Regions from separate parts of the Homo sapiens genome. Here region 1 is linked to region 2. Evidence: fine-mapped expression QTL. A gene starts in region 2. The other region holds a variant in brackets. All regions are shown on one strand. Distances are between the middles of the regions.

What was found. PIP is the estimated chance that this variant, and not a neighbour inherited with it, causes the effect. A credible set is the group of variants that fine-mapping cannot tell apart.
Region 1: its variant is the best candidate, but not a certain one, in a credible set for the expression of THPO in skeletal muscle (FUSION, PIP 0.55).

The regions. Positions count from the first base shown.
Region 1 is chr3:184,307,815-184,312,049 of GRCh38, reverse strand. It overlaps PSMD2 (proteasome 26S subunit ubiquitin receptor, non-ATPase 2), which reads right to left. Exons shown (of 21, transcript NM_002808.5): 19 at 4,034-4,160; 20 at 3,483-3,601; 21 at 3,000-3,342. The coding sequence ends at 3,160. Among named protein-coding and RNA genes, the nearest start is that of EIF4G1, 4.7 kb to the left of the region's middle. The variant C/T (reference allele first, on the strand shown) is at 2,289.
Region 2 is chr3:184,376,652-184,380,862 of GRCh38, reverse strand. It overlaps THPO (thrombopoietin), which reads left to right and starts at 2,656. Exons shown (of 6, transcript NM_000460.4): 1 at 2,656-2,788. It overlaps CHRD (chordin), which reads right to left and starts at 809. Exons shown (of 23, transcript NM_003741.4): 1 at 397-809; 2 at 68-171. The coding sequence starts at 544.

The DNA.
Region 1 (4,235 bases), 69 kb after region 2:
TCTCCATCCACACACTACATCTAATCAGACACCAGGTCTTACTGGTATTTGGATCAAAATCAAGTCCTATTGATCTTATCTTTTAAAAAATAACTATTCTACCCTTCCCTATGTCCCCATTTCAACTGCCTTAGTTCAAGCATTCATTTTCCTTGCCTGCTCTCCTGTCCTCCAGGGTTAGCTTTCTCACCCAGATAGCTGATCATGTCACTTTTCTGCTCTCATTCAGTGGGCCCCATTGAAAGATACTGTCAAATTCTTAGCACAACAAAGCTCTTGTAAACCTAGTCTGAGCCTGAATTTCCAGCTGTATCTCCTACCACCCTTTTCCCTGGCCCCTATACATTTAGCCAAACCAAATTATCTGTAAGTTTCTGAAAACAGCTTTTCCTCCTTCTTGCCTTTGCTACTCCCTTAGCTATATTCTGCCCTCTTTTCCTCTGTACAAACTTATCTTCCTCTAAGGATATAAGCTTCCTCAAAGTCCCCCGATTGCCCCAGGCACTTAGGCCCCATCTCAGTGATACCAGGGTACCTTGTTCACACCCTGGTAAGTATCGATCACAGTTGTTTTCATCATTTCATTAAACTTTTTGAGCATAGGGGTTTTTTTCTGTATTTGCATCCCCATAAATTAGACGAATGTCTGATGCAGAGTAAGGCTCCACTGCTATTCACTGATGAATGAAGAACTAAAGGTGAAAGGTTAAAAGCCACTATGAAACTGTCTTATTCTAAAGCACAATCACCTAAATCACAATTTGGGAGAGAATCATTCTTTTTAGTTTACAAATCACTTTTTATTCTAACATCACCACCACTGGAAATCAGGTAAGGCAACTACTATATCCACATTATATAATAACAGAGGCTCATCACATCACACATGCTAACTTGAAGATTATGGCAGGAACCATAAAGGGGCTCAACAGGGATTCCTTAATCCTGTTTCAACCTTTTTATACAGGCTGCCAAGATGACTCAATCCAAAATTGCTGATGTCTCATGCCTGTAATCCCAGCTACCTGAGAGGCTGATGTGGGAGAATCACTTAAGCCTAGAAGTTCAAGGCTGCAGTGAGCCATGATCATGCCACTGCACTCCAGCCTGGGCCACAAAGTGAGACTTTGTCTCTAAAAAAATTTAGTAATAAAATAACTGGGCCAGGTGTGGTGGCTTACACCTGTAATCCCAGCACTTTGGGAGGCCGAGGCAGGTGGATCACAAGGTCAGATCGAGACCATCCTGGCCAACATGGTGAAACCCCGTCTCTACTAAAAATACAAAAATTAGCAGAGCATGGTGGCGCATGCCTGTAGTCCCAGCTACTCAGGAGGCTGAGGCAGACAGTCTCTTGAACCCCAGACGCAGAGTGAGCCGAGATCACGCCACTGCACTCCAGCCTGGGCAACAGAGCACGACTCTGTCTCAAAATAAATAAATAAATAAATAGCCAGGCATACTGGCTCATGCCTGTGATCCCAGCACTTTGGGAGCTGAGGTGGAAGGATCCCTTGAGGCCAAGAGATTGAGACCAGCGTGGGCAACACAGCAAAACCCCCACCTCCACAAAAATAAAAGTAGGCCAGCTGTGGTGGGTCATGCCTATAGTCCTAGTTACTACTTGGGAGGCTGAGTCAGGAGGATCACTTGAGTCCAGGAGTTTGAGGCTACAGTGAGCTATGACTGTGCCACTGCACTCCAGACTGAGTGATAAGAGTGAGACCATTTCAAAAAAAAAAAAAAAAAGCCAGAAGTGGTGGTACACACCTGTAGCCCTACCTTACCTGCTTGGGAGGCTGAGGGTCAAGCCTTCTTGAATCCACTTTCTACAAGGACATCCTAGAAGTAGATGTTAACATGATCAAATTCCTCATAGCAGCCTCCCAAGAGGGACAGATGGTTGCGGGAGGTAAAGATGTCCTTTTCATTCAGTAGCACGTAAGTCAAGTTAGAAAAGTATGAGGCTGCCCACTCTTGGGCATCCTTAGCCCAAGGTCAGAAGATGATAGGCTTGAAGAGGGTGTATTGGTGGTGGAGGGTGAGTGTGGGGGGTTATTTACAGGATCCACAAGCCCCCTGAAGTTATTTGGAAGAGTTTGTGTAAAAATTTGTGTATTTGCGTCTCCTAGGAAGAATATCCATTGGCTGGGCACGGTGGCTCACACCTGTAATCCCAGCACTTTGGGAGGCCGAGGCAGGTGGATCATCTGAGGTCAGGAGTTCGAGACCATCCTGGCCAACATGGTGAAACCCCGTCTATTAAAAATACAAAAATTTGCCGGGTG[C/T]GGTGGCTCACGCCTATAATCCCAGCACTTTGGGAGGTTGAGGCAGGCGGATCACAAGGTCAGGAGATCGAGACCATCCTGGCTAACATGGTGAAACCCCGTCTCTACTAAAAATATGAAAAATTAGCCAGGCGTGGTGGCAGGTGCCTGTAATCCCAGCTACTCGGGAGGCTGAGGTAGGAGAATGGCGTGAACCCGGGAGGTGGAGCTTGCAGTGAGCCAAGATCGCACCACTGCACTCCAGCCTGGATGACACAGCGAGACTCCATCTCAAAAAAACAAAAACAAAAAACAAAAATTAGCCGGGCGTGGTGGCAGGCACCTGTAGTCCCAGCTACTTGGGAGGCTGAGGCAGGAGAATGGCGTGAACCCGGAAGGCAGGCGTTGCAGTGAGCCGAGACTGCCTCACTGCACTCCAGCCTGGGGGAGACAGCAAGACTCTGTCTCAAACAAAACAAAACAAAACAAAAAGAAGATCCATTACATTTATTGGCTTCTCAAGGGTTCTAAGAAAATGCAAAGAGAAGATGATTAGAAAGGAGGGGCTTAGTTTTTTCCACCCAGGGGAGGGAAGGGGCTCAGTTCTTTCCATCCAGGGCAGTGCTGCTAACCTAAACTCAGCGTTGCTCCTAACAATGCCCTCTCACTTCCACTCCTTACTCTAGTTTAGACTCCAGCCATGACACCCCAGAAAACAGACACAGAGAGACCTTGGGGATAAAAGTCTTTATTGAACAACCTTATCTCACTCAGTAACAAAAGAGCAGGAGGCGACAATTCCCCCAGAAGTCTGCAGCCGTGTCCACCCTTGGCAGCAGGATGCATGGCCTGCTGATAACATCAGCTGCAGTTCAGAGCCCCTGGTGGTCACTTAGAGATCATAATTGGGGTTCTTCCGAAGGATAACAAAACCTTCCAGAATGGGGGTAACAGGAAGAAACTCCTCAGTGGCCAATTCTGCCCGTTCCCCGTGGGCCAACAACACTGGGGTTGTATGCGTCTGGAACCCTGTGATAGTCTTCGGCTTGCCAGCCTGGCCCACCACATCCACTGCCTGTAGGGTAAGAAAATTGAAAAGAGAGATGGAAAAGTAGCGACAAGCCACCGCCCACGCCAGTTTCAGCAAAGCAAGTATATGTACATTCTCCAGTTTGAGAATACAGCCTGAGCCCTCCCCTCTACTCAGCCTCTCACCTGGCCCACACGGACAGACACTGGCAATGGCCGCAGCTCCTCATCAAACGTAACCAGCATTCGGGGCTGCATGGCAGCCACCAGCCCATACAATACATAGTGTGATTTGCCTAGAATAACTGAGGGAAGCAGACAGGACAAAAAGTTAAGAGACAAAAAGACAGGCCTGGCCAGAAACATTGAGAGCCCACCTCAGCGCTGACCCTTTAACCCGTCAGTCATACGACTGAATCCACACTCCTCCCCTCATACACCCTACTACGAACCAGAGACGCCCCCACCTCACTTTGCTTACAGCCCTTAGACTTGAAAATCGCATTTCCCCAGTGACTTAGGAGCAGACGCTGGGCACATCACCCTCAAATCTCTTTGGGCCAGATCAAAAGTGTGGGTGATGAAAGTCTCATGTCACAGGCCCAAAGCCTGTCTCAGAAACCTAGAGCGATACAGAGCTAAACTGGGGTCTTGAACCTAAATTATCAAAGTGGCCCTGGAAAGGGTGGAGTCAGAGCCCTGCATGCTATGATATAAAATTTCTGACAGGAACTCACTGTTTCGAACATCCAGGAAAGAGACAAGCACAGTGAGCAGTCCAGCCACGGCCACCTGGCTCATAAGCTGCCGGTCGCTGTGGTAGGGGCAGAGGGTAAGGGTGCCCTTCCCTAAATGTGTCAGGCCCTGAAAAAAACAGAGGGAAGTAGAGGTGAGGAGTTACCACTGAGGAGACATCGCCTAACCCAGCCAAACAGAAAT
Region 2 (4,211 bases):
TCCGACGCCCGCGCGACCCGGCGCTCCCCACCCGCCAGGGCCCGGGCCGGCCGCGGGGTGCACTCACCGCCTCGCAGGCGCACAGCACGCAGCGCATCACCCCGAATGGCTCCCCTAGGTCCGGGTGCCACGTCTCGTCCAAGGCATAGACCTTCCCGCCGAAGGTGCAGCCTGCGGGGACGGGCTTGGCTGGAGGCCGCTGCCCAGCTCGCGCCGTGTGCCGCCCCGGGGGCTGCCCGCGGGTCCCGGGTCCCAGGCACCGCGCCCTTCTGCCCCCGCCCACCCTCCGGGCCGCCCGCCGCGCCGAGCCACCTGCGCCCCGCGCCCCCTCCGGGCTGGCGCTGACTCGCCCCGAGCCCGACTCCCCGCCCGCGCCTCCCCCGGGCGCCCACCTACCTGCCGCTCCCCGAACGGGCAGCGGCTCCTTCTCAGAACGGATGGGCAGCACGGGGGGCTCTGGGCCGGCGCCGCGGGCCGGCCGGGAGCCGAGCAGCAGCAGCCCGAGGAGCAGCAGCGGGGCCGGCGGGGCCGGGAGGCTCGGCATGACGCGAACGGGACAGCTGGGGAGGAGGGAGGGAGGAGGGCGCGGGAGCGGGCGGAGGGAGGGAGGCGGGAGTGCGGAGGGCGGAGGGCCGGGCCGGGGGCGGTGCGGCGGGAGGGGGCCGGGGCCGGGGCCGGGGCCGGGGCAGTGCCGCGAGGGGCTCGTCGGGCGGCCGCAGAGTCGGCGCCGGGCCGGGCGGGGCGGGAGGAGCGGCCGGGAGGAGCGCGGGCGGGCGGGCGCTGACCCGGGCCGTACGCGGCTCTACTGCCCCGGGCGCCGGCTCCGGCCCGTTTTATGCCCCGCGCCCGACGCCCCGGCCGGGGGCCTCCTCCTCAGCAAACGGGGCGGCGGCGGCAGCTCGGCGAGGGGCCGGGCTGAGCCCGGGGGGTCCGACCCAGCAGCAGCGGCCCGGATCGCGGGTGGGGGAGGGGAGGGAGGGGCTGGGACCGGGCAGGGGAGGAGGGAGGGGCGGGAGGGGAAGGGGGAGCGGGGGAGGGGGAGGGGAGGGACCAGGGGGCGCGAAGAGGGGGAGGAGAGGCGGGCCCGGAGCCCCCCGCTGCTGGCGGCCACAGGGCGGCTGGACCAGGAGGTCGGTGTCCAGCCCAGGAAGGGAGCCTCAGGCTAGGGAGGGGCAGAGGCTAGGCCTGAGGCCTGGACCGCTCTGTGAGCGAGGACCCGGTTCCGCCCGAAGGATGAAGACTTGTCTTTAAAGATGACAACGTACAGGAAAGGTCCATCAGCCGATCTCCCCCTGCCTGGGCCCACAGCGCCCCCCAAACCCTCACCACCCTCTCTCACTGCCTAGCCTGCCTCCCTACCTTCTCTCTGAGGTCGCTCCTCATTCTTGTGTTACCCAGGACAGGGACCTAGCCAGAAACCGGCAGCATTCCCCCTTCTGTGGAGTGACAGTATCTCCCTCTCATTGTAACTTATCCTCAGGCGCATTCGACAGTCCCCTCTTGCTTTCTCACCCCCTTCCTTCACCCAAGGGACCCTCTGCCTCTCCAGCCCACTCCCAGCCTCCTTTCTCTTGGTTCCCTGGTCATGCCTGCCTCCCTGTCTCCTGTCTCTCCCTCCCACACACACCCACTATCCTCCCAGCTATCCCAGCACCCTCCTTCCTAATCTTGGGAGACATCTCGTCTGGCTGGACGGGAAAATTCCAGGATCTAGGCCACACTTCTCAGCAGACATGCCCATCCTTGGGGAGGAGGAACAGGAGAGAGCCTGAGGAAGTTCTGGGGGACAGGGGGATGATGGGATCAAGGTCAGGCCAGGAAGCCCCTGAGGACAGAGACTGTGGGGAGACTGGGACTGGGAAGAAAGCAAAGGAGCTAGAGCCAGGGCCAAAGGAAAAGGGGGGCCAGCAGGGAGGTATTTGCGGGGGAGGTCCAGCAGCTGTCTTTCCTAAGACAGGGACACATGGGCCTGGTTATTCCTCTTGTCACATGTGGAACGGTAGGAGATGGAAGACGGAGACAGAACAAGCAAAGGAGGGCCCTGGGCACAGAGGTCTGTGTGTGTAGCCATCTAAGCCACTGGACCCCAGCAGACGAGCACCTAAGCTCAGGCTTAACCCAGTGCACGTGTGCGCACATACATGTGCCCCGCACCTGACAGTCCACTCAACCCGTCCAAACCCTTTCCCCATAACACCAACCCATAACAGGAGATTTCTCTCATGTGGGCAATATCCGTGTTCCCACTTCGAAAGGGGGAATGACAAGATAGGACTCCCTAGGGGATTACAGAAAGAAAAGCAGGAAAGCAAGCATCCTGTTGGATTTCAGCAGCAGGTATGATGTCCAGGGAAAAGAAATTTGGATAGCCAGGGAGTGAAAACCCCACCAATCTTAAACAAGACCTCTGTGCTTCTTCCCCAGCAACACAAATGTCCTGCCAGATTCCTCCTGGAAAAAAACTTCTGCTCCTGTCCCCCTCCAGGTCCCAGGTTGCCCATGTCCAGGAAAAGATGGATCCCCCTATCCAAATCTTCTCCGTGGTGTGTGTGGGTGGAGGAGTGGACCCTGGTCCAGGCAGGGGCTCCAGGGAAGAGAAGGCGTCACTTCCGGGGGCCTTCACCAGTGTCTGGTGGCTCCCTTCTCTGATTGGGCAGAAGTGGCCCAGGCAGGCGTATGACCTGCTGCTGTGGAGGGGCTGTGCCCCACCGCCACATGTCTTCCTACCCATCTGCTCCCCAGAGGGCTGCCTGCTGTGCACTTGGGTCCTGGAGCCCTTCTCCACCCGGTGAGTGGCCAGCAGGGTGTGGGGTTATGTGAGGGTAGAAAGGACAGCAAAGAGAAATGGGCTCCCAGCTGGGGGAGGGGCAGGCAAACTGGAACCTACAGGCACTGACCTTTGTCGAGAAGAGTGTAGCCTTCCCAGAATGGGAGGAGCAGGGCAGAGCAGGGGTAGGGGGTGGGGTGCTGGTTTCTGAGGGACTGATCACTTACTTGGTGGAATACAGCACAGCCCTGGCTGGCCCTAAGGAAAGGGGACATGAGCCCAGGGAGAAAATAAGAGAGGGAGCTGCACTTAGGGCTTAGCAAACACAGTAGTAAGATGGACACAGCCCCAATCCCCATTCTTAGCTGGTCATTCCTCGTTAGCTTAAGGTTCTGAATCTGGTGCTGGGGAAGCTGGGCCAGGCAAGCCAGGGCGCAAGGAGAGGGTAATGGGAGGAGGGCCCACTCATGTTGACAGACCTACAGGAAATCCCAATATTGAATCAGGTGCAAGCCTCTTTGCACAACTTGTGAAAGGAGGAGGAAGCCATGTGGGGGGTCCTGTGAAGGAACCGGAAGGGGTTCTGCCAAGGGGGCAGGGAGGCAGGTGTGAGCTATGAGACAGATATGTTAGTGGGCGCCTAAGACAAGGTAAGCCCCTAAGGTGGGCATCACCCAGCAGGTGCCCGTTCCTGGGCAGCTGGTCTCAGGAAGGAAGTCCCAGAACTGTTAGCCCATCTCTTGGCCTCAGATAATGGAGTATTTCAGGACTTGGAGTCCAGAGAAAAGCTCCAGTGGCTTTATGTGTGGGGGTAGATAGGGAAAGAATAGAGGTTAATTTCTCCCATACCGCCTTTTAATCCTGACCTCTAGTGGTCCCAGTTACAGCTTTGTGCAGTTCCCCTCCCCAGCCCCACTCCCCACCGCAGAAGTTACCCCTCAACATATTGCGCCCGTTTGCCAGTTCCTCACCCAGGCCCTGCATCCCATTTTCCACTCTCTTCTCCAGGCTGAAGCCACAATACTTTCCTTCTCTATCCCCATCCCAGATTTTCTCTGACCTAACAACCAAGGTTGCTCAGAATTTAAGGCTAATTAAGATATGTGTGTATACATATCATGTCCTGCTGCTCTCAGCAGGGGTAGGTGGCACCAAATCCATGTCCGATTCACTGAGGAGTCCTGACAAAAAGGAGACACCATATGCTTTCTTGCTTTCTTTCTTTCTTTCTTTCTTTCTTTTTTTTTTTTGAGACGGAGTTTCACTCTTATTGCCCAGGCTGGAGTGCAATGGTGCGATCTCGGCTCACCACAACCTCCGCCTCCCAGGTACAAGCGATTCTCCTGTCTCAGCCTCCCAAGTAGCTTGGATTACAGGCATGAACCACCACACCCTGCTAGTTTTTTTGTATTTCGTAGAGCCGGGGTTTCACCATGTTAGTGAG